4 linked regions of the Homo sapiens genome follow. The protein of the gene in region 4 interacts with the protein of the main gene of each other region in a biochemical or structural test. Each region holds a gene or a part of one and is shown on either strand. Other genes may lie near its edges.

Region 1 (7,554 bases), on a different chromosome or scaffold from region 4:
GCTTTCTTTGGGAGCAGTACAGTGACCGCGATGGGCGAGGCATGGGCTGCCGCCCTTTCCACGGCTGGACCAGCCTTGTCTTACTGGCCATGGCTGAAGACTACTGAAGGGAGGGAGAGGAGGGGAGCCAAGACACTCATGCCACTCTGGCTCTGAAGGGACAAAGGCTTCTGGCTTTTGCCCCCAGCCCCTTGGATACCAGTAATTCAAACCTTCCTCATTTCATCTCAGGTGTCTCCTTGCTGTCATCCCACATAGCCCTGGGGTGAATGTGAATCCAGAGTCTATTTTTCTAAATAAATTGGAAAAAACATTTTGAACTCTATTGCTTTTGCCAGATTTGCCTCACCAAGAGGCCTTAGGTCAGTCCAGGCCTCAGCACTGTCTGCTGTCCTCAGGGAAGGTGGGGTCAAGTGGCCATAACCTGTCCCCTTCAAACCCAGTCAGGTCAAGTGCAATGCAGTGAGTTGAGCTTTAGTCCACCCAAATCCACAAGTAGCTGGTTCACATCTCTTTAATGAGATCAAAGGCTCCTGTGTATGTCCTGCGGGGGTAAAGCTAGCACAGTCCCCCAATACTGCCCCTCTCCAGCCCTTTCAGGCAGATTCTAGGTAGGCAGGGAGGGGCCAAAGGAACGCAAGGAGTTGGGACTAGGGCTGTTTCTGGTGGGCAAGTAACCCATCCACCCTCTCAAAACTACTTATGGGATGTCCCCTTCACTGGAAGACAGCCCCATGGGAAAGATCTGCGGTACAGACTCTGGGGGTAGTGCACACGGGGAGTAGTCCTCCAGATCTGGCAGGGTGGCACTAACCCTCACCTCCTTGACTGGCTCACCCTCACCGGAGGCAGGACAAGGGCAGAGCTCAATACCGGAGTCGCCAGTTAAACGGCGATAGCGGCAGGAGGGGGGTGTGGAGGCAGGGGTCACCCCTGCCCCGGGCTCACCCTCCTGATGAGGGGGGGCACTCTGGTGGGAGGAAACACCTTCCACATTTGTTCCTTCAAAGTGGGCAGGGCAGCTGGATGAGGAGGAACAGCAGGTTTGTTCACTGGAAGCAGTCAAGGGGCGGCCTGGGGCCACAGTATAAGGGGGGGGTGGTGTGCCTGGGCGGTGAACCACATCCTCGTAGGCTGGGGGCTTGAAGGTGCTGAGGAAGCCTGCAGGGGAGAAAATTGGCATGATTGGTTGAAGACAACCAGGTATAGGGTGCTAGTTTTTATATTAGGGAAAAATACTTTGAAATGTGTGGAAAAGGGAATGTGAGACGATTTGGGGTTCTGGTTTGGGGAGGGCCACTGGTAGCTGACCCAGGGCATCAAGTCACTCACGAAGGTCAAGCAGTGAACCGGTAGGGAAAGGACCAGCCCCATGGCATGCCCCATGATAGGCCAACAAGTTGATTTCACGCTGCCGCTGCTGTTGTTGCAGCCTGAGTTTAGCTCGTCGGTGGCGGAAGGCGCAACAGCAGCTAAAGAGGATGAGGACAGTCCAGAGCAGCCAGAACCCTGCAAGAGGCAAGGAGGGAGCAACTCAGGCATCTTTCATGCAGAGAAGGGGCCCTGAAGGCCGAAATTCTGAGGTCCAAGGGAGGGTGGACACAGGGACCTGGAAATAGCCCTCTTGGAGACTTACACCAGAGCTCATAGTAGTAGGTGCAGCAGCCAGTCTCCCCGCAGCAGTGACCACTCTCACAGAGGTAGGGCTGGTTGTTCACTCCTGGGCACAGCTCTCGAAGCTGCGGGCAAGGAGGCACTTAGAACTAAGGGGGATTCCAGCCCAGGGCACTGTCCACCCCCACCTCCTGCATGCACATACACAATCCCACCCTGTGAACCAAGTTCAGCTTGGAGAGATGGGGGAAGTGGAGGATGCTGAGAGGAGTGTTGAAATATCTGAAGGGCTGTCAACGTGGAAGAGGATTTGGAATAGCAAGAATCAGTCTAGAGAACAAGACAAAAGTGTGGACATACAAAGAGGGAGATTTCAGCTCTGCATATATGAGACTTCCTTCACACTCAAGCCTCACTCTCCCCAACCCCCCTACCCCCATCCCCTCGGTGCTTTCTGTTAAGGGAGTGTTTTGGCAGAAGCCAGAAGACAGTCTGAGATAATCTCAGTCTCAGACAACGGGTAGCGGTAGGTCATTTCCAAAGCAAGTTGCTTTCATTATCCTGCGCGGTTCACTACCCCCCACCCGCAACTGGATCTTTCCACCCCTGGGCCTCAGGCTCCCTAGGATAGAGGAGGGGCAGTGTGAGACCCAGAGCAGTGCTCCCAACCAGATGGGATTGCTGTGGATGATAAAGGATGGCATCCAGGGCGCGAGTCTGGGTTCCAGCTCTTCTCCAAATTGCTCCCTCAAGAGAAGACGCTGCCGGACTCTGTTGTGACAATAGGCACATAGAAAAAGATCACAAATAACTGTTGCAAGACAGAGGGAGCCTCCCTGGGACCTCACTATGCCTCTGGTCACTGGAGAGCCACCGCAAGCTTCCACTGCAGCCATGGGATGGGTTCTATGAGGCTACAGGCAAAGTCAGCTGCATCTACGTTACAAAGTTTAGACAAAGAGTGGAAGAGACATGTTTAGGAACTTCACAGTACCTTTGGCTCCGTGAGTTCCTCCCCCACCCCCAAAAGGAAGGGACAAGGAAAGGGGAAAGAGACAAATGGCTGTCGTGATAGGTTTTGGAGCTATTGGGATACCTGCTGTTGCGGCGCCCGAAGTGCCCCCCAGGCCTCCTCGCTGCCGTTCCCGCTGCTGGCCCGAGCCATACCTCCACCTACAGCCCCCTGAGGACCACAGCCTCCTCTACCGCCAGCCGCCCCGCCCCTGCCACCTCTGCTGCCACCGCCATGGTCCCTGCCCGGCCCATCTTCGCTGAGGCCACCATCACTCCGCGGCCGGAGCTTCCATCCGGGCAGAACTCCACCAACTAGGACTCAGATTGCTCTGCCCTACCAATCATCATCGTCCCTTGACGGACGGGCCAATAGGAACAGATCAGAGGTTTCTCCCTGTGACCAATCCACAGCAGCGCCTCCGCCGCTCACCCAGACAACAAGAGCTTGTACAGACAAAGAGTAGGTGAAGGTTCGACCCACGGCCCTGACTGACAGCGGCAATAGCCAATACAGACAACAGAACAGGCTCTGGCATATCAACCAACGAACAGCCGCCCCGAAGAGCAAGGTTGCCGCTGATTGGCTTGCGGTATGTTTTCGGAATGACGCCAAAGGCCGAAGCACGCCAGGTAATCCCGGCTGGAAGAGGCGGAGTCCCAAAAGTCGGTCCGCTGGTTTGCAGCCTGGTTTTTTGCGGTGGTTTCCAAGCCCCAGGCATCGACGCAAGCTCCGACAGGGGCAAAATACGTGTATACCGGAGACTGGTCTGCCCACAACATCCCACTCCCCCAGTTCTGTACAAGCCGAAGCACCGGATGTAATTTAATAGGGTGGGGAAGATACTCAAGAGCGGGCATGGGACGGGGCGCAGAGTCCGGGTTAAGGGCCTTACGTAGCCAAAAGGGGGGATCCAGGACCCTCGGGCCCCCCCAGCCGCATCTGCAGGTTGATGCGGTAGCACTGAAGACTACAGAGTGCCTGGCCTGTGCGGGAGCAAGCGTAGCGGCGCGGATGGGGACAGCCGGGGACAGAGCAGCGCGGCGGCGGGCCTGAGGGGGATGGCCGCTGAGACACTGCCGTGGGGGCGGGGACGCCAGGTGGGAAGGAAAGGGTGGAACCCTGTGCTCCGCTGCAGTAGCGCACCATGGGGGCCGGAGCCGCAGCCCGCCCTCCCCGCCGCTCGCCCCGTGCGCCCCCCCGGCCTCCCCGCCCACTGGTCGCCGCAGTCTTGGTGAGGCGCTCGATAGTCTGGTTCTTGTGCTCTTCTGCCCGCCGCGCCGCCTGGAGCCGCCGCTTCCGCGCCCGCTCCTCGCGCTTCAGCAGCATCTCCTCTGTGAGGGCGGGAGGTGGGCAGCCCTCAGCTACAGGCAGCGGCAGCATAGGGGAAGGTTGACTCCGCGCCTTCTGGAGCAGAGCTCGCTAGGGAGAGACAGAGACGGGGTGCTGTCTGAAAATGGAGGAAGATGGAGAGGCGAGGTCGGCCAGATCGGGGGAGGGGAAAGAAGGGACATGGAAGGCAGGGTCTTGAGCAGTGCAGGCCTTCGGAGGCGGGATATTAATTAATGAGCACCCTCTCCAGGACACCTTCCATAGGTTCCTCTTCATAAATACTGCCTCCTCCCAGATCTCCTGACATTTAGCTTTAGGTCCTTATCTCTCAAGGGGAGAAGCATCAGTAATGTTACCTGCCTGACCTGTGCACCAAAACTGTACCAGCTTTCCCAGAGGTCTGTTGTTATTTTTAATCTTATCTCAATAGAGAGTATCAGGTGGATAACTGCTCAAGCCAAAATCCCAGGCTTAGCCTTGATATATTTTCTCTCCATTCCCCTCCCCACAAGTATCTACTTCCAAAATATAGCCATAATTCATCTGATTTTCTCCATCTCCACCACTTTCGTCTTGGTTAAAGCAACCACTGCCTCTCAGCTGATTACTTCAACAGCTTCCTAGTTGTTCTCCATACTTCTATCTCTTGTCTCCACGAAGATTCATTCTCTACAAAGATGCCAAAGTAATCTATTGAAATGTAAACCAAGTATGTCACTTCTCTGCGTACAGCCCTTCAGTGGCTTGTCCACTTTTTCTTCTCCTTTGCTAGACATGTTCCAGTCTCAAGGTCTGTGCGCCTGCTGGTCTCTGCTCAAAAGCTCTTCTGGTATTGCAAATGTTATCTCTTCAAAGAAGCCTTCTCTAACTACCCTAATGTCTCTCTTCCATCATTTCTATCTGTTTGTTTACGCCACTTTCTATTTCATCACCCTTTTCTTTTTGTCATAAACCATATAGCTTTTTGAAATTATTTACTTATTTACTTCCCAGCCCCCCAACACACACACTAGAATACTAGCTCCAGGAGAACAGAAACTTTGTCTTTTCTCTACTATCGATATCCCCAATGCCACGCAAAGTGCGTGGGTCGTGGAGAGTTCTCAATACTGTATACATTTGGTGAGTGAATAAACAATGAACCAACATACCTGTCGAGCAGTAAGCAGCCGCTCATTGATCTCCTTCTTGAGGTCTCCATTGTCATCCAGCTCCCCCTTCTCCAGGGCATCCAGCCACCTCTGTTCCTCCTCTTCCTCCTGACCCCCTAACCCTCCTGATAGGTCCCGAAGTGGAGAGGGAGAGAGATTACTGTCTTCATCTGGGAAGGAAGTTGGAGAAAGAAAAACAGAATTGTTCAGATGGGGCACCCTAATTTGGCTGAGTTAATACTGGGACATGGAAAATCCTAACCCATTTCAGAACCAACCTTCTTTCTTTAGGCGGGTATAATAAGAAACCCAGTTTCCCCACCTCCAGATCCTCACCCAGCCAGGCACGGTACTGCTCAAGGGGGACTCCTTCCATAGGTTCCTCTTCATTATCCACAACCATAAGGGGAGAGGGTGAGCGAGGCCCCTCTGGGATCACAGTGAAGGTAGGAACACTGCAGAGAAGCAACACTACTCTTTAAAATGAGCAAGCGTCTCCTCCTCCTACTCCGTAGCTACACCCAACTTTCCCCACCCTCTTAGACTCTTGCTGCCTAAATCTGGACCCTGAAGTCACAGTGTCCATTCGGTCTTCTAGAAAGCCCAGTCGGCTTCTAACTACTATCTCTGCTCCTAAAGTTCCCCTTATAAAACTATGACCCTCTTGGCCTCACCTCTTGGTCCCCAGGACTTGTCCCCCAAGCTTGATTTTGAGTTTGAGCTGAGGCTTGGCAGGGGACGGCTGCGTGGGCCCGGCGTCTTCTTCCTGATGGTGTTTCTTCTTGTGTTTCTTCTTGTGCTTCTTGTGTTTTTTCTTGTGCACTCCATGGCCATGGGCACCCGCCAGGCTCAACTCCAGGGCTTCTCCTGTGGAAGGAAAGCCTGTCGACAGTGTTTGGCCGGAGGGTGGCAGGGGAAGCCCTGAATAACCTAAGCCCCTACTGGATCCCACCCTTCCCGCAGTACTCGCTGTTACCATAACAACAGCACCGCCTTTCTCCTTGCCACCTGTGGCCGAAGTACCCTGGACTCTCCGAGGAGCAAGAACGGGACTTCTTTTCTAACACGACCTAAATTGCTTGATCTATTCGCGCTTACCCGGCTCAGGGGCCTCCATAGCCCCAGAGGTGCTCCCACGCCGCCACAGCTTACTCATGAGGTCCTGCGAGGAAAGGGGACTAGAAATGGTTGGGACACACGCAGACACGCCTTTTCCGCCCCGCGGAAAAACTGGAGCCAGCAAAACAACCAGTTACTTCCGGTTCATGGCAACCATCCTTGTGCGGGGCACGCTTCGCGTCCAAAATCGTCCCTGAGAAACGAGGATCCTTCCAACGAACGTTCCGGTCCCTCTGAGGTCGGGACAGCCCAAATGGGCAGGGCTTTCCCCTGGCTCCGCCTCCCCACGCTAGCTTTCAGAACTCAGCGCGGATGAGTCAATTATTGAACACAAGTTTGGTGAATGTATACACTAGACCAAGTGCGGGAAGCTAGTCTAAGAGGATGCAAAGATGAATATGAACACCGCCCCTGTCCTTGAGGAACTCACAGTTGGGTGGAGGAATACATAAACTATATTGATGACAAAATGGCCGAAATGGTTAAACAGCACGAGTGCCCTAAGAGCAGATGCAGTTTAGGTATTTAAACTTCAATTTTCATAAGTAGGGAAATGAATAAATGAATTACGGTGCAGCTGTACAATGCGGAACACCATATTGCTAAGAAAAGTTGAGTTGTAAGTAATTAATGAGATTGACACAGAATTTAAACAATCTAAGTGTCCTGATGAATTGGTGTATCCATACAGTGGGATGTTAAGCAGCTTGGAAAAGAAATGAGGCGCCCCAGAAGGCTATCTAGGAAATTGGTAAGAGTCATTTGCTGATGAGCATCTAGAGAACAAGGGTGGATGGCGACCTATTTTTTTATGATTATACCCTCTTGTGCCTTTTGAATTTTGTATAAAACGTGTATATTTTACCTCATTTTAAAAAAGACATAAAAACAGGTAGGTTTGTATGTGCTGATACACGAAATAAGAAAAGTAAATTTCCCATCCTGGCTAATACGATGAAACCCCGTCTCTACTAAAAATACAAAAAAAAAAAAAAAAATTAGCCGGCGTGATGGCACGCGCCTGTAGTCCCAGCTACTCGGGAGGCTGAGGCAGGAGAATCGCTTGAACCCGGGAGGTGGAGGTCGCAGTGAGCCGAGATCGCGCCACTGCACTCCAGCCTGGTCGACAGAGCGGGACTCCGTCTCAAAAAAAAGAAAAAAAAAAAAAAGTAAATTTCAAGATTATGTGATCTGATTTTTAAAAGCATAATATACTAGCAAATACATAGAAAAAATTGAGGAATGTATACCTGTTAATGTTGGTTAACTGTAGAAGTTGGGGTTGAGGAACTTTCACTATTTAGGTATGTAATGTATTTTCTTACA
Region 2 (3,465 bases), on a different chromosome or scaffold from region 4:
AGCCACCACACGTGGCTAATTTTTGTATTTTTAGTAGAGACGGGGTTTCACCATGTTGGTCAGGCTGGTCTTGAACTCCTGACCTCAGGTGATGGCCTGCCTCGGCATCCCAAAGTGCTGGGATTATATGCGTGAGCTACCACGCCCGGCCAATTTTTGTATTTTTTGTAGAAATGTGGTCTCACTGTGTTGCCCAGGCTGGTCTTGAACTCCTGGGCTCAAATGATCCTCCCATCTTGGCCTCCCCAAAGTGCTGGGATTACAGGCGTCAGCCACTGTGCCCGGCTGGCAGAGGATTTTAATTGTTGACAGAATTTCGCTACATACAGTCGGCCCTCTGCGTTAGCTGGTTTGGAATCTGCAGATTCAACCAAACATGGGTCAGAGACATTTGAAAAATAAATACATACATGGATAATACAGATTAAAAATATGATAGGCTGGGTGCGGTGGCTCATGCCTGTAATCCCAGCACTTTGAGAGGCCAAGATGGGAGGACTGCTTGAGGCCAGAAGTATAAGACCAACCTGGGTAACATAGCAAGACCCCCATCTCTACTGCAAATAATACAAAATTACCCAGGCTTGGTGGAGCCCATCTATGATTGGGAGGCTGAGGCAGGAGGATCGCTTGAGCCCAGGAGTTTGAGGCTGCAGTGAGCAATGATTGTGCTACTACATACTCCAGTCTGGGAGACAAAACAAGACCTCATCTCAATACTACTACTAATAGTAATAATGCAGTATAACAGTGATTAAATAGCATTTATATTTTGTGTGTGTATATGTGTATATATATATATATATATTTTTTTTTTTTTTTTTTTTTTGAGATGGAGTCTTGCTGTGTCACCTAGGCTGGAGTGAAGTGGCACAATCTCGGCTCACTGCAATCTCCACCTCCCGGGTTCAAGCAATTCTCCCTGTCTTAGCCTCCCGAGTAGCTGGGATTACAGGCATCCACCACCATGCCCAGCTAATTTTTGTATTTTTTAGTAGAGACGGGGTTTTGCCATGTTGGCCAGGCTGGTCTAGAATTCCTGACCTCAGGTGATCTGCCTGCCTTGACCTCCCAGAATGCTGGGATTACAGGCGTGAGCCACCACACCTGGCCATAAAGTATTATAGGTAATCTAGAAGAGATTTAAAGTACACGGGAGGGCTGGATGCAGTGGCTCATGCCTGTAATCCCAGCACTTTGGGAGGCTGAGGTGGGCAGATCACTTGAGGTCAGGAGTTTGAGACCAGCCTGGCCAACATGGCGAAACCAGGTCTCTACCAAAAATACAAAAATTAGCTGGGTGTGGTGGCATCCACCTGTGATCCCAGCTACTCACGAGGCTGAGGCAGGAGAATCGCTTGAACCCAGGAGGTAGAGGTTGCAGTGAGCCGAGATTGCGCCACTGCATTCCAGCCTGGGTGACAAAGCGAGACTCTGTCTCGAAAAATAAAATGAAATAAAAATAAAGTACACAGGAGGATGGGCTTAGATTATCCGCAAATATTATGCCATTTTATATCAGGGACCTGAGCATCTGTGGATTTTGGTATCCACGGGGTTCCTGGAACCAATCCCCTGTGGATACCAAGGGACGGTATACACTCAGCTCCAAAACCCTCCTTGCACCCCAGTCTGCCCTAGACACCACCTCCTGATGGCCTCATCCCTGGTCAAGGGCGGGAGTTGGGAGATGGCTAGATGGGGAGCGGTATTTCTGAATTTCTGTTTCCAGTGTTCTCTGAGGCTTAATGGGAACATTTCTCTTAGGAGGATCCAAACCCACTCTTGGGGGACATGAGGCCGCGCTGCATGACTTGCTGAACGGCACAGGGACCCCTCGAGGAACAAGGTTGCACACCAGCTTTCAGCCACCATGACTGTGGGGAGTGGCTGGACCAAGGGCTGACCTCCCCGACTGCATCAAAGTTGGGGAACCAAGTCTCAGAGTGAGGCGGGGGCCTTTCGGATATCACATGGGACAGAGGAAGAGCCCGGCTGGAATCTGACTTACCTGGACCGCTGTCCTTGTGAGGCATTGAATGCCCAGTGCAGTATCCGAGAGACTGTTTAATAACCTGTCTTCCCAGCCAATTGGTGGTGCTGGAATCCCCTAGGAGCCTTCAGTCTGGGAGAAACAGAGCCAGACATAGACAGTTCCAGCATCACAGAACCAGAAGAAGAGACCTGCAACTGTGAGAGTCCAGACAGGAAGCAGAGAAGGCGTCCTTGCGGAAAGGGCATTTTAGCTGAGGCTTTGGAGTACGAATAGGAGCTCAGCAGGCAGACGAATGAGGAATAAAGGTCAGAGAAGGTCAGAGCTGAGTGACGTTTGGAATCCACCCCGTTTATTGTAGAACTGGGGGTTCAGAGGGCAGGTGCCTCAGAGTTGAGGCCACACAGTGAGGTCTGGTGGGTGAAAGGACCCAGGAACGAGGCGTTCAGGAAAGCAGGTTGTCAGAGCTATGTGGAGTCTGTGGGTGGCAGGGGCAGCCGCTCCAGCCTTTGAAGACTTTGAAAGCCAGAGATTCCTGGCGCAGGCTTGGACTTCCTGGGAGCTCCTCCAAGTACCCAGGGGCATCAGAGCTGCCTGGGTGTTACATGGCCCAGGGAACCCAGGTTCAGGGTAGGACAGGCAAGACCAGATACCCAATGTGCAAAGTGAAAACACTGGGCTCCCTGTTAAACGATGAAGAATTCAAGACAGTGACAGCATTACGTCACCCCTGGGGACAGAGGTCAGCCTAAGGTGACACACGGGGACTACTGTGCTTCCGGAGGCTCCCTGTGTCCTGGAGGAGAAAAGCATTAGAGGGGGCAGCTGGACAAGCTCCCAACTGCAGAGTCCCAGCCCTGGCTGGGGCAGGGCCCCGGCCTGGGACTCAGCATTTCTGATATGCCTTAAGAATTCATTCTGTTTTGTACAATTATTTTTTAAAAGTAAACGTGTGGAGAAAGAATCCGGGCTTCTTGGTTTATTTCCGCCCCCGATCTGGCTGCTGAGGGAACTGGGACTGCCATCCCTGGTCACTATCTTGGAGACTAAATTCCTGGCCAAGGAAGGCAAAGGGGCTCATGATTGAGAAGGGGAAACTGAGGCCCAGGACTGGGAGGGGGTTGGTCCAAGGACATATGAGGAGGCTGAGCTGGGGTGGGAGCTGAGCCCTGGGCCCCATACCTGCACCGCCTATCGGAGTCTCAGAGGCTGGCGGGGGCTGAACAGTGGAGGACAAGCAGAGAACTCTATCCTCAGAGAGTGGGGAGCAGGGGGCTGGGGCTGGGAGGAGCCGCCTGAGTACGGGAACATCCTGTCATCTGAGTCTAGGTTTGGTTTTTGTGGGTTTTTTTCTGTTTGTTTTTGTTTTTCAGAAGGAGTCTTGCTGTGTCGCTCAGGCATAGTGTAGAGTGTAGTGGTGTGATCTCAGCTCACTACAACCTCCACCTCCTGGGTTCAAGCGATTCTCCTGC
Region 3 (7,216 bases), on a different chromosome or scaffold from region 4:
TCAAGGAAGGGAACAATGGTTTGCTTGGCTTCACTCCTCTCTTTCCCCCCAATTTCCACATGGGTATCTGGCTAAAAATGAGTTACAGGTTTCCTTCTGTGAGAATTGCATGGACTGATAAAGTACCATCCCAGGAAGAAAACAAAGATGCTGTCTTCCCTTTCGGCTCACAGTTGCCGTTGGGGAGGGAACACACGCTGTAAATTATAGGCAGCCAGAAGTGACCGCATTGACCACTGCGAGTGGCCCAGCTATGGCAACAGGCTGAGAACTCTGGGGGAGAGCCATTTGTTGGCAGGGATGGTGATTCTTCTAGCATCAAGCTCTAAGATGATGACCAAACGGTATCAAAAGAAATGATATTTTGCTACCTCTCCGGCTTGGGTGAATGATGTGGACAGTTAACCTGGACAATTTAAACCTTTATGTTGATGGATCACTTGGATGAAATTAACCAGGAAATTGCCAAGATTTCACTTGGCCCTCTGACATCAAATCTCAATATTATATTACCAAATTAGAGATTCTAAAGAACCCTGAGTTCCTTTCACTGAAAGGAAGGAGTGGAAAAACCTTTCCAGATGATCCCTTTTGAGTCTTGGTGCGAGCTCAGGCCCTCCCTACACTGCCTCCGTGAAAGCTAACCGACCCTTGTTCCTAACCTAGCGCAGGTCAGCTGAGTGTCCATCGGGCACAGGAGCCCTGGGCTTGTCCGGGAGATAGCCAGACTCCTGCTATTTCCTGATGTCTGCATAGCTCAGCGTGTCCCTCACCATCTTTGCCGTTGGCCAGTAAGGAGAGCCCCAGGGGCCAGCACTGCACACTGAAACCCAACCTATTGCTCAATGGAATGCTTAAAAATTTCCTGAATCTGCCTTCCTGAGTTGATAAAATAGGAAACAATACACGTTCTGAGGGGGTACTGAAAGCAGAGTAAAGCCAGGAAGATCTTTTTTTTCTGTTATTCTATACAAATATTGCTTCCTCTGCTTGTTAGCAGCCCAGAGGAAATGCAGCCAGGGAGCCGTTTGCAGCTTTTCACCAGTGGCCGGTGTCTCTGTGTTACCAACCAAACGACGCTGCAAGACTAGTGACTAACGCACGTCTGCATGATTCAACTTCACTAAAATTCCCTCTGCTGCCAGTAAAGAAGCACTTGAAAACTCTTTAATTTGAAACTTGAGCTTGGTTAATGACTTGTTTTCTTCTCTTTCTCTTTAACTTCTCTCTTGCCATCTCCAACACACACACACACACACACACACACACACACACACACACACACACACTCTCTCTCTCTCTCTCTCTCTCTCTCTCTCTCTCTCATCAAGTTTTTTAATTTCAGGGACCCGGAAACATACAGCCCCGTGCATTCACAATAGCATTTGCTGTGATAAAGTGGCCGGCAAGCCCTCTGCATTCCCCTGCTCACTTAGCTGTATGAATAAATAATGAGTCACAGATACAATTTGGGTGCTCAAGAGAGTTTGTAGCCAGAAAATTAATTATTCTCCCATCCCAGCCCACTCCATCTCAGCTTTGCCAAACCATCAAGATACACTTTGCAGGCACTGGTCAGAGTGCGTGCCCCGACGCACACGGCAATGCCTTTGAGACATTTTATGTTATTATTTTTGTTTGTTTAAGCACAGCCCTCTTTTACCACGAAAGATACACAAGACGCACATGCACACACATACTCACACACTCACAGCTCAACCACAGCTTTGTCCATTTCAAGAGGCTGGTTTCAAAAATGGAGACAGGTTTTCCACCCTGGCTGTTCCTATTCATAAGCCTGTAATCTAACGACTTAAGCTGCGAGAATGCTTAACTCGGGAAACTTCTCTATTGCCCTTTTCCAGAGAGACCTCGGTATGCCACAATTTGCTTCCTTTCTCTCTTGAAAGATGCTGGTTGTCTCTTTGCATTGAGGCTACAAGGAAAAACACAGCACAGCCCCATGCTGATGATTTTAACCTAACCAAGTCTGTCAGTCTCCTGTACTCTCTGCCTTATAGAGACAGCTGCCTTGCCACTTTGGCCCTGAAGTCCCCAGGCTGGTGCAAGGCTATCTGAGAGCCTCCGCCTCCTGCCCCACACTGGCACCAGCCCTCCTGGCTGGCTCTGTGCATGTGCCTGCTAAGCCCCAGGGCAGGCTGCATTCTGGGCCACACAGCATGCCGAGTTAAGGATAACTCAGACACAGGCATTCCGGGCAAGGGACAGCAAAATAAAACCCAGGGAGCTTCGTGCAAGCTTCATAATCTCTAAGCCTTTAAACAAGACCAGCACAACTTACTCGCACTTGACAAAGTTCTCACGCACCGACTGAACACTCCAACAGCATAACTAAGTATTTATTAAAACATTTCTGAAGAGCTTCCATCTGATTAGTAAGTAATCCAATAGACTTGTAATCATATGCCTCAGTTTGAATTCCTCTCACAAACAAGACAGGGAACTGGCAGGCACCGAGGCATCTCTGCACCGAGGTGAAACAAGCTGCCATTTCATTACAGGCAAAGCTGAGCAAAAGTAGATATTACAAGACCAGCATGTACTCACCTCTCATGAAGCACTGTGGGTACGAAGGAAATGACTCAAATATGCTGTCTGAAGCCATCGCTTCCTCCTGAAAATGCACCCTCTTCTGAAGGCGGGGGACTCAATGATTTCTTTTACCTTCGGAGCGAAAACCAAGACAGGTCACTGTTTCAGCCTCACCCCTCTAGCCCTACATCTCTCTTTCTTCTCCCCTCTGCTGGATACCTCTGGGACTCCCCAAGCCCTATTAAAAAATGCACCTTTGTAAAAACAAATATTCAAATTGTTAAAGATTAAAAAAAAAAAAAAAGCCAGCGCCGCCTTGGCTGTGGGTTGGTGATGCTCACCACGCTGCGAAACCCTGTGGTTTGCATTCAGTGTGATTCGTCCTGCCTGCTGACCACTATGCTGGGTTCAGACTTCTGACACTGCCAGGCTACCCAACTTGTGGTTCTGTGGTTGTTTATGAGGCCCAAAGAAGTTTTCACACAACCCAAATTACAAATTTAACTGTTCCCCTTTCCACAGCCCATCTCAATTGGTTCTTGCCAATCATGTGACTTAAGTGATGTCAATTTTTTTTTTTCTTTTCTGAGCAATGCCCTTCCTTCCCTCCACCTGCCCTCCCCCAGGCTGTGCAAGAAAATAGCCGAGTAGACTTTGCAAGAGGGGGGGATGTAGAAAAAAGTGACTCAGTCACTTATTATATCTCAATGGTCTTTGCTGATTTAGTACAACTCGGCTCCTGTTGTTATTTGTGGTTTTTGGAACTACTGATTATTTTGATAAAGATTTCATTGCTGCTTATTCAATAGTAATTCAACGCTGGCATCAAGCCGCTGCTCCGACAGGATGTGGATCCCATCATTTAAAATGCTAGGCATCAGCTCCGGGAGAGTTAAGTCCTTGGTAACGTCTATCATGGCATAAGTGAAACTATAAAAGGGAAAAATAAATAAAAAGAAATGTTTTGGTGAGAGTCTGACCCCTACAACGGGCTGGCAACTCACAGGTATTTTAAAGCCTGGGAAAGGGAAAGAATTTTACTTTTGAAATAAAAGGACTGTTTTAATGAAACCAAAATTATGTGGTTTTATTCCCCCTAAATGGACAACTTTAGTATGTATCTCTTTCAGTAAAGAGATAAAATCATAGTACAGTCTTAACACACACACACACACACACACACACACACACACACACACAAATTAGGAAGCTAAAGGAAAACAAAGCAGAGAGAATTTCTGTATTTGGGACAAAGCAGTGGTTACTCTGCAGATGTTTATTTGTATTGTCACTTGGGAAAGCTCCCTGTATTGCCTTTCTCTAGTTCAATTCAAATCAATAGGCTAATTTACACCTGTAGGTAAAACTACACTTTGAGCACATGAGGATGCCACAATAGAAGGGGAACCAGGAGGAGACACTTCTCCTGGGGCTGACTAATGAATATTATATAGCGCGTCCTCTACCTTAGAAAGACATGCCTGTTTGAAGATGCTAAAAACAGGATAATTTTGTAAGTGGGCAAACCACTGTGGTCACACGTATTTCATTTTCCGGCCCCACTGGCTTTACCTGCTGACAACTAAAACGTCATTTTGTTTTGTAGTTCCAAGATGAAGAAAGGCTTATTTTCCTGATTTACTACCTTATTCATTTGGCTCTGCTCTGCCTACATCCGCCATAGCACTCTGCGCACGTGAAATTTCGACACATAGGGTCAAGAGAACCTGTGTGATGATGGGTTGTAAATGCCAGTCCTGGATTCTAAGCTGCAGTAGCCAGCACAGGCACTTCAGAAAGGCTGAACTCCCACAACACTCCCTCGGTTTTCCCTCATCCACTTAATTTCACACACACAAAGACCCACAACGATAGTAGCTTCCATGGCACAAGTCTTTCAAAAGGAACAGACACAATTTTTACTTACTCCTGTTTTGACTAAAGCAGGAATTGAAACTCAACAGACCGCTTTCTCTTACACTTGTGAGAAGTTAGCTGGCCACATGTTGACACTGCTAACATCTAAAAAAGAATAATAGTGCTACATCTCTTTTATGAGGCTCGTGAATCTTTAAATGTGATGCGTGTTTCATATTGCTTCTCAGTGCAAATCCCCTGTGAACATAATGAACATAATGGGCCTGTGTTGTTACCCTCCCTAATAAAGTCAAGCCTGAGTTGAACCCCAAACCAGGTTCATTTTTCTCTCCCACACTTAATATTCCCTGGAAGGGCCCTAAGAGCCGAGGGCTGTAATGTGCAGCTGCCACTGCAGAGTCGACTCACACTTAATAATGACTTAGCAATTCAAGGGGCCATACAGAATATCCTTGGGAGATTTAATTTTAGAAACTCCCCAGATGCTTTTAGCCTTAGGTGTCCAGATGCTTAGGAGAAGGGTTTGGATGAGGCAGTGAACGGCCTGAATTCTCAACTTTTCTCTTTGGGCCTAGCTCTAGCCAGATATCTATTTCTTCCAGTGGGGTCTTTGTAGGACAGGTTAGAGTGTAAAGACACTCTAAGGCTGGGGCTCGTTGAAGCCTCACTATACGCTGTCATCTTCGGGACTGAGGTTTCAACAGGGCACCAGGGGGCAGAATACAAAGGCCTGCACGCTGGCCCTGCACGGCCTTCCTGGGCGGGGTTAACAGCCACGGCAGCCGCAGCATAACTTCGCAGCTTGGTGAGGCAACAGTTGGAGCTTTTCTGGGCACCCTCCAGGTCATGACAATAAGTAAAGCCTCAGCCAGCTGCTGGTGAACTTGGCCTTACCACTTCCCTAGGAGCCCAAGACAAAAGGGCACGTCTGTCATCAATGAACCGCCTGGAGAAATACTTAATCCTAACTTAACTAGAACGGTTTAGGACTCTTTAAGTTTGTGTATTGACCCACACCCTCTGTCCTAGTTCCTGCAAGTGACTCAGACCCTGGGTTTCTGGCTTGGGGATTGTACCCAAGAGTCTGCAGTGGACTGTGGCTTTGCCAAGGAATTGGATGACAGTTTTCATTCTCGCTCATATTGGCTGCAGCTTCTAAATGCCACCATGGGTGGGGGGGCGGGGTGGGGAGAAAATGCTCAGGTGTCTTTTTTAATGGCCCTATGAAAATACTAGAAAGGGTTGACAGATGTTTACCTGCATAACCCTGTAATTAATGTATAGACTTCTGTGTGCAGTCCAATCCAATCAAAGCACCCTCTGTTAGGGATATTCATTACATGATTGCCGCATGCTATCTCTGAACTCCACATGTCTATTATAAAGTAGATTCTCTGGCCAGAAAATGGAGGCAGAGATGGACCACCCAAATTGGATGGAGTCTAAAATCCCAGGAGGACAATGCTACTGAATTTTCTCTATGTAGCGTGGATTTTCCTTATTTTCTAAATCTGTTTTCTAACAGATGTCCTATCCAGAAACTTCCATGCTATGCTGACAGTGAGGTCAGGGATGATTTTTAAATTGGGACGTAGACATCAAAGCTTCATGGGATGACTATAACCTGCTTTTGGCAAATCCAATGGTTTGAGACAGCTAGGGAGCCCTAGAAGCCCAGCTATTAAAGATGTTCTTTCCTGGACACTCATGATGGTGCCCACACAGGACACATCTCTCTTCCGCACAGGCCTCTCACTTCTTTAGATAAAGGTGCAATTCAAATTTAAGCTACCCAAGACTTTATTTTTTTTGAGACACAGTCTTGCTCTGTCGCCCAGGCTGGAGTGCAGTGGTGCGATCTCAGCTCACTGCAAGCTCCGCCTCCCAGGTTCACGCCATTCTCCTGCCTCAGCCTCCCGAGTAGCTGGGACTACAGGTGCTCGTCACCACGCCCGGCTAATTTTTTGTATCTTTAGTAGAGACGGGGTTTCACCGTGTTAGCCAGGATGGTCTTGATCTTCTGACCTCGTGATCCACCCACCTCGGCCTCCCAAAGTGCTGGGATTACAGGCGGGAGCCACCGCGCCTGGCCTCAGTATTTACTTCTTAACCTTTCCTAGATGAAGAGGTATTGTTGGGGAAATATGATTTCAAAAGGAAAAAAGAAAGAAAAAAGGCAGACATTGAAACCAACCTGCCACTTGAATGTTATGTAATGATATGAAGAGCAGCTAGGGAGAATTATTTCAAATGAAAGAGTTTCAACTGCTTCCTCCTCTGCTTGCAGACTGCAGGTGAGCAGTGTCGATGGCACCCAGGAACTTGTTGAGACTCTGCATTGCGGGCTGTATCCCAGGCCTACTGAATGAGAATCTGTATTTTTACAGTTCCTCGGGTGATTCTATACACATTAAAGTTTGAGAAACATTGCTGAGGAAAGCCTTGCATCTATTGGAATTTAGTAGAGAAATAATAACATGGTGTTTGCATTCTTTGAGATGTCTTTTTCTTCCTTTGAGCTTTCTGAAACTTTTCTACTTTGTTGCTCTGACATAATTTTGTAAGCCCTGGATGTTTCTAGACAGCAGAAACCCACAAGAGGCAAGGCCCACGTCCTCTAAGGTAGCATTTTCTTGGATTGTCACTCGGACCTCTCATCTCAAGTGCCGTGTTTGGGTCAAGTTTACAGTCTGAGGTTTGACACACAATGTAGGGAGGCTCTCCCTGTGCTCCATCTGCCTAGCTGGTGGCCATGTGTATATAAACAGAAGGCTTTTTCCTCTGG
Region 4 (7,843 bases):
ATGGAAGTGAAGCAAACCCCACCTCTTTCACAAGTACAGGTGAAATAGGAAACTTTTAAAGTGCAAGGGAAAATAGGTTGGGGCAGTTTCTCAGCTTCAGCATTAATGCCATTTGGACCTGATCATTCCTTGTTTTTTGAGTGGAGTGATGGGGCTGTCTTGTGCACTGTAGGATGTTTAGCACCCTCTGTCACATCTACCCACTAGATGCCAATGGAACATCCAACCTACCCCCATGAAAAATGTCGTAAGCCATTGCCAAAATCCCCTGGGATATGAAATGGTCCCAAGTTGAGAACAACAGGATTAGTGTATTTGTTATCTATTTCTGGATAGATATAAATTATCTCCCAAATTTAGTGACTTAAAACAATAAGCACTTATTTTACCGCTATAGTTTCTATGGGTTAAGCATTTGAGAGTAACTGAGTTGGGTGGTTCTGGTTCAAGGTCTTTGATGAGGCTGCAGTCAAGACGCAATCATCTGAAGGCTTGACTTAGGCTGAAGGATCCACTTCTAAGATGTCTCACTCACGTGGTGATGGCAGCAGGCCTCAGACTCTGGTGGTTGTTGGCAGGATGTCTCAGTTCCTTGCCATGTGGGTCTCTACACAGGGCAGCTTCCTGTGTCTTTGCCATATGGCAACTGAGAATGATCTGAAAGAGAGTGGGAGGGGCTCCATGATGCCTTTTTATGGCCTGGTCTTGGAAGTGACACACTGTCACTTTTGCTATATCTGTTAACAACAAGTCACTAATTACAGCCTACATTCCTTTTGGAAGAGAATTAGGCCTCACTGGTTTATTTTTTTTTAATTTTATTTATTTATTTTTTTTTGAGAGGGAGTCTTGCTCTGTTGCCTAGGATGGAGTGAAGTGGTGCCATCTTGGCTCACTGCAACCTCTGCCTCCTGGTTTTTTGTTTTTATTATTTTTGAGACAGAGTCTTGCTCTCACTCTGTTACCCAGGCTGGAGTGCAATCATGATGCACTCATGACTCACTGCAGCCTTGACTTCCTGGGCTCAAGTGACCCTCCCACCTCAGCCTCCAGAGTAGCTGGGATTACAGGTGCACACCACCATGCCCAGATAAGTTTTTGATTTTTAGTAGAGATGAGGTCTCACTACGTTGTCCATGCTGGTCTCGAACCCCTGGGCTCAAGCAATCTTCTCACATTGGCCTCCCAAAGTCCTGGGATTACAGGCATGAACCACTGTGCCTGGCTAGGCTTCACTTTCTGAGGGCAGAAGTATCAAAATATTTGTAGACATATTTTATTAAGAAATTTAAAAAAATTATTCTTGGAAATATAATACAGACAGGGTGTATTAGTCTGTTCTCATGCTGCTAATAGAGACATACTTGAGACTGGGTAATTTATAAAGGAAAGAGGTTTAATTGACTCATAGTTCAGCATGGCTGGGGAGGCCTCAGGAAACTTACAATCATGGCAGAAGGGGAGGCAAGCACAACCTTCTTCACATGGTGGCAGCAAGGAGAAGTGCTGAGCAAAAGGGGGAAAAGCCCCTTATAAAACCATCAGATCTTGTGAGAACTCACTCACTATCACCAGAACAGCATGAGAGTAACCGCCCCCATGATTAAATTACCTGACACTGGGTCCCTCCCACAACACGTGGATATTATGGGAACTACAATTCAAGACGAGATTAGGGTTAGGGATGGTGGCTCATGCCTGTAATCACAGCACTTTGGGAGGTCGAGGCAGGAGGGTCACTTGAGATCAGGAGTTCAAGATCAGCCTGGCCAACATGGTGAAACCCCGTCTCTACTAAAAATTAAAAAAAAAATTAGCTAGGTGTGGTAGCATGTGCCTGTAATCCCAACTACTCGGGAGGCTGAGGCAAGAGAATCACTTGAACCCAGGAGTGGAGGTTGCAGTGAGCCAAGATCACACCACTGCACTCCAGCCTGGATGACAGAGCAATACTCCATCTCAAAAAAAAAAAAAAAAAGATGAGATTTGCGTGGGGACACAGCCAAACCATATCACAGGGTTTGTCATGTTGGTCAGGCCGGTATCAAACACCTGGCCTTAAGTGATCCACCTGCTTTGGGCTCTCAAAGTGTTGGGATTACAGGTGTGAGCCACAGTGCCCGGCCTGTAGACCTATTTTAAAACCACTACAGTTAGAGAACAATTTTTTAAACAAATGGTTTGGGGGAATACCATGAGCTATTTTTAAAGGAATAAAAGTTAGATTATCATTGCAAAATAAATCCAAGAAAATTAAATTATTTAATGAAAAAAGTAAAATAGTCAAACAAGTAGAAAAAAGTAAAGACAGATGAATTATATGATCTCAGGATGGGAAAGATGTATGAAGTAAAAAACAATGGAAGAATACAAAAATGGAAAAGATCAATAGTTTTACAAAGGACTAATATCTACATTGTGTGAAGCACCCTTTTGTGAAATACCTCAGTAAGAAAATGGACAAAGGACAAACAATAAGCTACCATACATACACATATGAAAACATACCATGATGATTTGGGCACATGGAAGAAGGACAATCACATACTGTCATGTAGTGTTGTGGGAAAATTGATAACCATTATGACAATCATTTCTTGATTATGTGCCATGCTCATGTGTTAAGTAGCTCTATGCGTGTTATTTATAGCAATTTATATATATTTTTTAATACAACATGTGGAAGCACTATATTAATTTTCTAGTTGAGACACAATTAGATTAAGCAATTGGCCAAATCTCTCAGCTCATAGGCAGCAGGAGGGTCAGGTTATCCATTAGGCACAGTAGACACAGTGCCTCAGGCTTATAACACTTTCGGGGGCCCATAAAAATGTTTTAATTTCTTTTAAAATCAGAAGGCAAAAAATTGAATATTTAGGTCAAAGAAAATATTTTAATGTATAATGTTAATATCTTTTTCTTCATACCAATGCAGTAATAAAATATATTTTGTAGTATTATTTTATGGAAGATGAGGCCCACACAGGTATAAGCACCTAGGGCCTGTGAAAGTCAGAATGTGGCACTGGGTGGCAGAGCTGTGTTTTGATGCTGGGCGATGTGATACCTGAGCCTATGCTCTTTCTGGAAGGTAGTTGCCAATATGTTTCAAAAGGGCTAAACTTGTTCATACTTTTTTATTACTTTTAATAATTTATCTAAGACAGTTAATAAGGACATGAACAATGGTTATGGAATACTATTTATAATATTGTTCATTTGAAACCAAACAGTCAATAACAAAAGGCTGGTTCAATATTGGGTGTCAGCTTGAGGACTAGGTGAGTACTAAGAGCTTCTGAACGGGGAGGAAATTGAGCAATGAGGGGAGCTGAAAGTGAGACACAGAGCAGGAAGAGGAGGCCTGCATGCATTCTGGAGAAGGAGTCCAGATCCCTGCTGGGGAATACCTACGGAATTTCTGAGGACGTGTTTGTAAGCACATTATTGCATCTATTTAAAGGGACCAGACAGCAAAAGCAAAAAGATGAAGAAAATCTTAGTACATGTTTAAAGCAGAGATGAGTGGGCACATATGGGGCACTGTGAAGAGTTTTTCATAACAGGAGAGATAGAGCATGTGAGCATCAAAGGAACCTTGAATATCACGTTAATCTTTGTCAGGAGAGCTCCGAAAAGCCAAAGAATGATTTTAAGCAGTGGAATGACACAGATGTATATTTTCGAATGATCTTTGTGGATATAATGTGCACCAATTTCAACTATGAAGCCAGAGGACAAGAACTAATGCATGGAGGTAGGCGGGAATGTGCATTGTTCAGTCAAGAGATACTTGTTGAATTCTGTACACACTCATGAAGTGTTGGGGTTGTTTTTGGTACACAGTTCTTTCAAAAAGCTCAGTTAAAATGGAAGGGGAGAGAGAACCAGAGGTTTTAAAATCAAGGGAAAATTTAGGACCTAATCTTAAAACGTGATTATGCTGAGGAGTTGTAGGCAGTGGAGAGGGTGAAGTTAAAGATGTGCCAAGGACCGCCCACAGTGGGGAGCAGGCAGTGGAGAGGAGCAGGGACATCTAGCCTCCGAGATAGAAGGAAAACTAGTAAGTCTGGGTGTGGACGTAGATATAATCTATGGGGGTTGGTCAGGTGGTTGGGCAAAAGCTGTAGAAATCCATGCCTGAAGGCTTCTGCTTCTCTGAAGTAGAAACCGGGTCACCTGGTAAGCAATGTGGTCCCACTGACTTCTATTTGCACATTGGCCTTTCTTCTAAAAGCAATACACATAACCAACAGTACTTTTCTAAACTAGTTGACTTTTCTGTAAAATGCAGACAGTAGACACTACTTTGTCAGATTGTTGTGTGCGTTAATTGTGCGGACACGTATACTCGGTCAATAAGTATCTGCTTTATCACCGGGCTGATGTGAGTGAGGACTAGGTGGTGGGGCTTCCACAGATGAACGTTTTGATTAATAAAAAATGGACTGAAAGTCTTCGGGTATGACCAATGGCTAAATGCAATTATTTACTCTTGCAATGTGTTCGAGGTCACCCAGCTAGGTCAAGGAGTATTTATGGACAGCCTACTTTTGCCCCCGGACCTTAAGAAGTCCTGCTCCGGGATCAGCCGCCGACCGGAAAGTCAAATTAGCAGTGCCCAGCGCGAGCTTAGAGCAGCCTCTTCCCAAATCTCAGCGGCGGCCCCGCCCCTTCCACACGTTCAGGCCCCGCCCCTCCCTACTATTGGCTGTCCGTCCCCCTCCGCTAGACTGCTCGGAAGACCCGGAGGAGCGGAGTTTTCCTAAGGCAGCATCCGAGCGCCCTCGCTGCGCATGCTCGGGGGAGGCGGATTCCGGGTCCGGAGTTGGAGGCTTTGGGCGGCCGCGGCGTAGCGCGCGGTGCCGGGGCCGGCGGGGAGGCGCGCGCTTAGGGCGCGGCGCCGGCGACGCGGCCACGCGGCGCGCTCCCGAGGAAGGGAGGTGTGGGGTCGGCTGGGGGTGGCGCGTGGACGGGGTGGGGGTGGGGGGAGGGTCGGGTGTCGGCGAGCTCCGCGTGCGGGTTCCGAGTGGCTGCTGGCGGCCTGGGCTGCCGGGGCCGACGCCTGGGTGGCTGCTGCCGCCGCGCCTGCTGCGAGATGGCGATCTTGGGCGCGGAAGGGTGAGGGCGCCCGCCGCAGGAGGAGGTGCCGCTGCCGTGGCCGCCCGGCTGCCGGGAGCCGACAGCTTCGCGCCGGGTAAGGACGGCGCGGCGCGGGGCTGGGGGTGCGAATGGGCAGGGCGGGAGGGGGCACGGGCCCTGAGCCTTGGCCGCGGTGCTGGGCGCCCGGCGCCGTCCGCCCCCGGGCTGGACCCTCCTAGGACCCGTCGGGGGACGGTCCGCCCTACCTTGGCTACCTTCTCCAGCCCGGGAGTCGGGAGTTTTCTGGGGTGGGGTCACGGGTCTTGCCCGGAGTTCGCCCTGGCAAAGGCCTGTGCCAGTGATCCTGGAGCGGAGCGAAGTGTTTCCGTGACTCTGCAGCCGCAGTTCTTAGGCTTCCTTAGCCTTCTCTTCGCCTTCCTCCACCTTTCCCTAACACCTCCCTGAAAACACAAATACATGGACTCATTGCCCGTTCCCTGACTTTCACCCCAATTTCAGCGTTGCAAACCAAGGACTCCAGCTTTGGAACGTCTTTTTCTGACATGTTTTTATCACTCTCCGTTCTTCACCGACTCTGCAGCTCCCCATCCCCCGCCCCCCCAGCGCAACCCCCACCTCCACCTTTTGTGACCTGGTAGGTTCCAGTGACCTTGCAGATTTTACCAGTCCTTATCTTGTCTGTGACTTACAGACTCTCCTTTCATCTTCGTGTTCTTTTTTTAAAAAAATTTAATTTTGTAGTTTGCTCCTTACCTTTACGACCTTTAAATGATCAGTCTTGTTCACAGTCCTTTCTTTGCTCTGCCGATTTGGAGTTTTCTCTGCTGTGGTAAATATATGAAACCTTCATTACCAAAGAAGAGTAGTGTCTGTTATAATTTTGACATTTTTACTCTTTCAGAATAAAATATTTTCCAGGGGCTTGATTTTGCCTTCTTTTTCTATTTGATAAGTTTAACAAATTTTTTTCTGTGTGTGTGTAGGTTAATGTGGAACAAGATTTTGTGTTTCTGCTTTAAAATGTTACTGGTAATAGTAGTGGGAAAAAAAATCATGTCCAAAATTATCTTTGTTTTCCCCGTTTGGTGTTTTTACCTGAAATAGTTGGTTTACAGTTACCTGCATTTTTTTTTTTTAACAAGAGTTCATGTTTATGTGTAAATCCACTTTACCTGCCTCACCAAATCTGTGTGTATTATACAAGCAAAATGCACCTTTTAAAGAAGAAAGTCGTTCTTTTATTGTGTGACTTGTTTTTAGCCATCAAGTAGTAAATTAGCTGCAACTAGAAATGATCATTTTTCATAAATGGTTAGTATTTTAAAAAATGGAAAGTGTAGTGGCCAAGTATTGGGAGCTACTCAGATTGAGAATTGTAAAGTATGTGGAATAGTTCTTTGGGACATAGCTTATCAACATTTTCAGATAGTTCTTACCTTAAAATGTGAAACTGCTGGTAAGATCTACATCAGGGTTTTGAAAAGCAATAATTATGAGCTACCGGCATAATACAGGATGTCGCAGATAAAGTTTCTGCCTTCAAAGAGATGGTAATCTTTGCTGTTTACCCCACGGTGGCTGAAATTTCCTTTACTTCCTTGTACAGTTGTTAAGCATTTACTGCATAATTGTGGGAGGTATTTTGGGAAATACAAAGATGAACCGATTAGCAATTTCTGCCTTCACACTAATTAGGTAGATAGTGCTATACACAAATGCCTTATTTGTCTTTTAATATATAAGTTTCATAAATGGTACCAAAATCCTCTCAGAAGTCAACTTCAAAGAGAGTAGAGCTCAGATCTTACTTGGCAAGGTAGGGATAAGAGGGTTAGTTTGTAGAGCTCCTGGCTTCTGAAATCGTGGTTTTGAAGGACGATTATGACTTTGGATAGGCAGGAAAGGTAATCCTAGCAGAGAGGTATCTCTAAGAGAGCACAGAGTTCCTGTTTGGGGAAAGGCAGGTAATTATGTTTGGGTGGAACATAAACTTATTTGTACCAGGATAAAGGGTGATAAAACTTGAAGTAAAAATTTGGACCAGTTTATGGGTTGTTTTTAATGCCAGACTTATGACCTTGGATTTACCCGGTGGTGGGGCTTCCACAGATGATTTTGAATTGGGAGTGAAACAATTTGAACACTTTGTTTCAGAAGGATTAGTGGGATAGAGGTCTGTAGTGTGAACTGAGGTAGGGAGACCCTGGAGGTAGAAAGACCTCCCAGTTGTTGTAGTCATGGATAGTGAGGATCTGAGCTGTGGTGCACGCGAATGGAAAGGAAGAAAGGAAGTCGAATAGCCAAAATTTGATGAGAGGGCAAATGAAAGTAAAAATAACTGATTCTGATCCAGGTTGGTTGGGAGAACAGTGGTACCATTTTGAGCAAGATCATGAAGCTTTACCCTCAGCATATGTGTGCTACTTTACAACTTTTTGGAGATTACTAATTCTTGGTAAAATGCTGGCCTGGAAAATTTCCATATGCGCCTATGCTTTGTGGATATAATTTTAGGGGAGTCCATGGAACACCTGAAAGTCATCCATGACACTCATCTCAGAATTTCTTGGAGCTTTTTTTATTTTCGAGGCAGGATTTCTTTCACTCCTGTCCCTGTGGCTGGAGTGCAGTGGCGCCTTCTGGGCTCATTGCAACCTCCGCCTCCCAGGCTCAAGAGATTCTCCTGCCTCAGTCTCCCGAATAGCTTGAACTACAGGCGCTTGCCACCACACCCGGC

The links.
Region 1: the proteins of WWP1 (region 4) and WBP1 interact in a test that uses a peptide from one of them, tested with the Homo sapiens proteins (one study listed by BioGRID).
Region 2: the proteins of WWP1 (region 4) and ARRDC2 form a complex in vitro, tested with the Homo sapiens proteins (one study listed by BioGRID).
Region 3: the proteins of WWP1 (region 4) and RUNX1 form a complex in vitro, tested with the Homo sapiens proteins (one study listed by BioGRID).

The regions. Positions count from the first base shown.
Region 1 is NC_000002.12:74,453,828-74,461,381, reverse strand, and holds WBP1 (WW domain-binding protein 1), read right to left. Parts: upstream 2,945-7,554; 5' UTR 2,780-2,944; coding exon 2,711-2,779; intron 1,740-2,710; coding exon 1,637-1,739; intron 1,510-1,636; coding exon 1,333-1,509; intron 1,162-1,332; coding exon 701-1,161; 3' UTR 501-700; downstream 1-500. Other genes in the region: MOGS (mannosyl-oligosaccharide glucosidase), read left to right, coding at 1-107; INO80B (INO80 complex subunit B), read right to left, coding at 3,518-4,048, 5,110-5,279, 5,446-5,564, 5,784-5,976, 6,208-6,265.
Region 2 is NC_000019.10:18,011,146-18,014,610, forward strand, and holds the end of ARRDC2 (arrestin domain-containing protein 2), read left to right. Parts: intron 1-1,767; coding exon 1,768-1,821; 3' UTR 1,822-2,957; downstream 2,958-3,465.
Region 3 is NC_000021.9:35,046,274-35,053,489, forward strand, and holds the start of RUNX1 (runt-related transcription factor 1), read right to left. Parts: upstream 3,030-7,216; 5' UTR 2,895-3,029; exon of another isoform or gene 2,686-2,894; 5' UTR 2,627-2,685; coding exon 2,569-2,626; intron 1-2,568.
Region 4 is NC_000008.11:86,337,731-86,345,573, forward strand, and holds the start of WWP1 (NEDD4-like E3 ubiquitin-protein ligase WWP1), read left to right. Parts: upstream 1-4,816; 5' UTR 4,817-5,200; exon of another isoform or gene 5,201-5,546; intron 5,547-5,859; exon of another isoform or gene 5,860-5,930; intron 5,931-6,542; exon of another isoform or gene 6,543-6,704; intron 6,705-7,843. UniProt on the Homo sapiens protein: E3 ubiquitin-protein ligase which accepts ubiquitin from an E2 ubiquitin-conjugating enzyme in the form of a thioester and then directly transfers the ubiquitin to targeted substrates.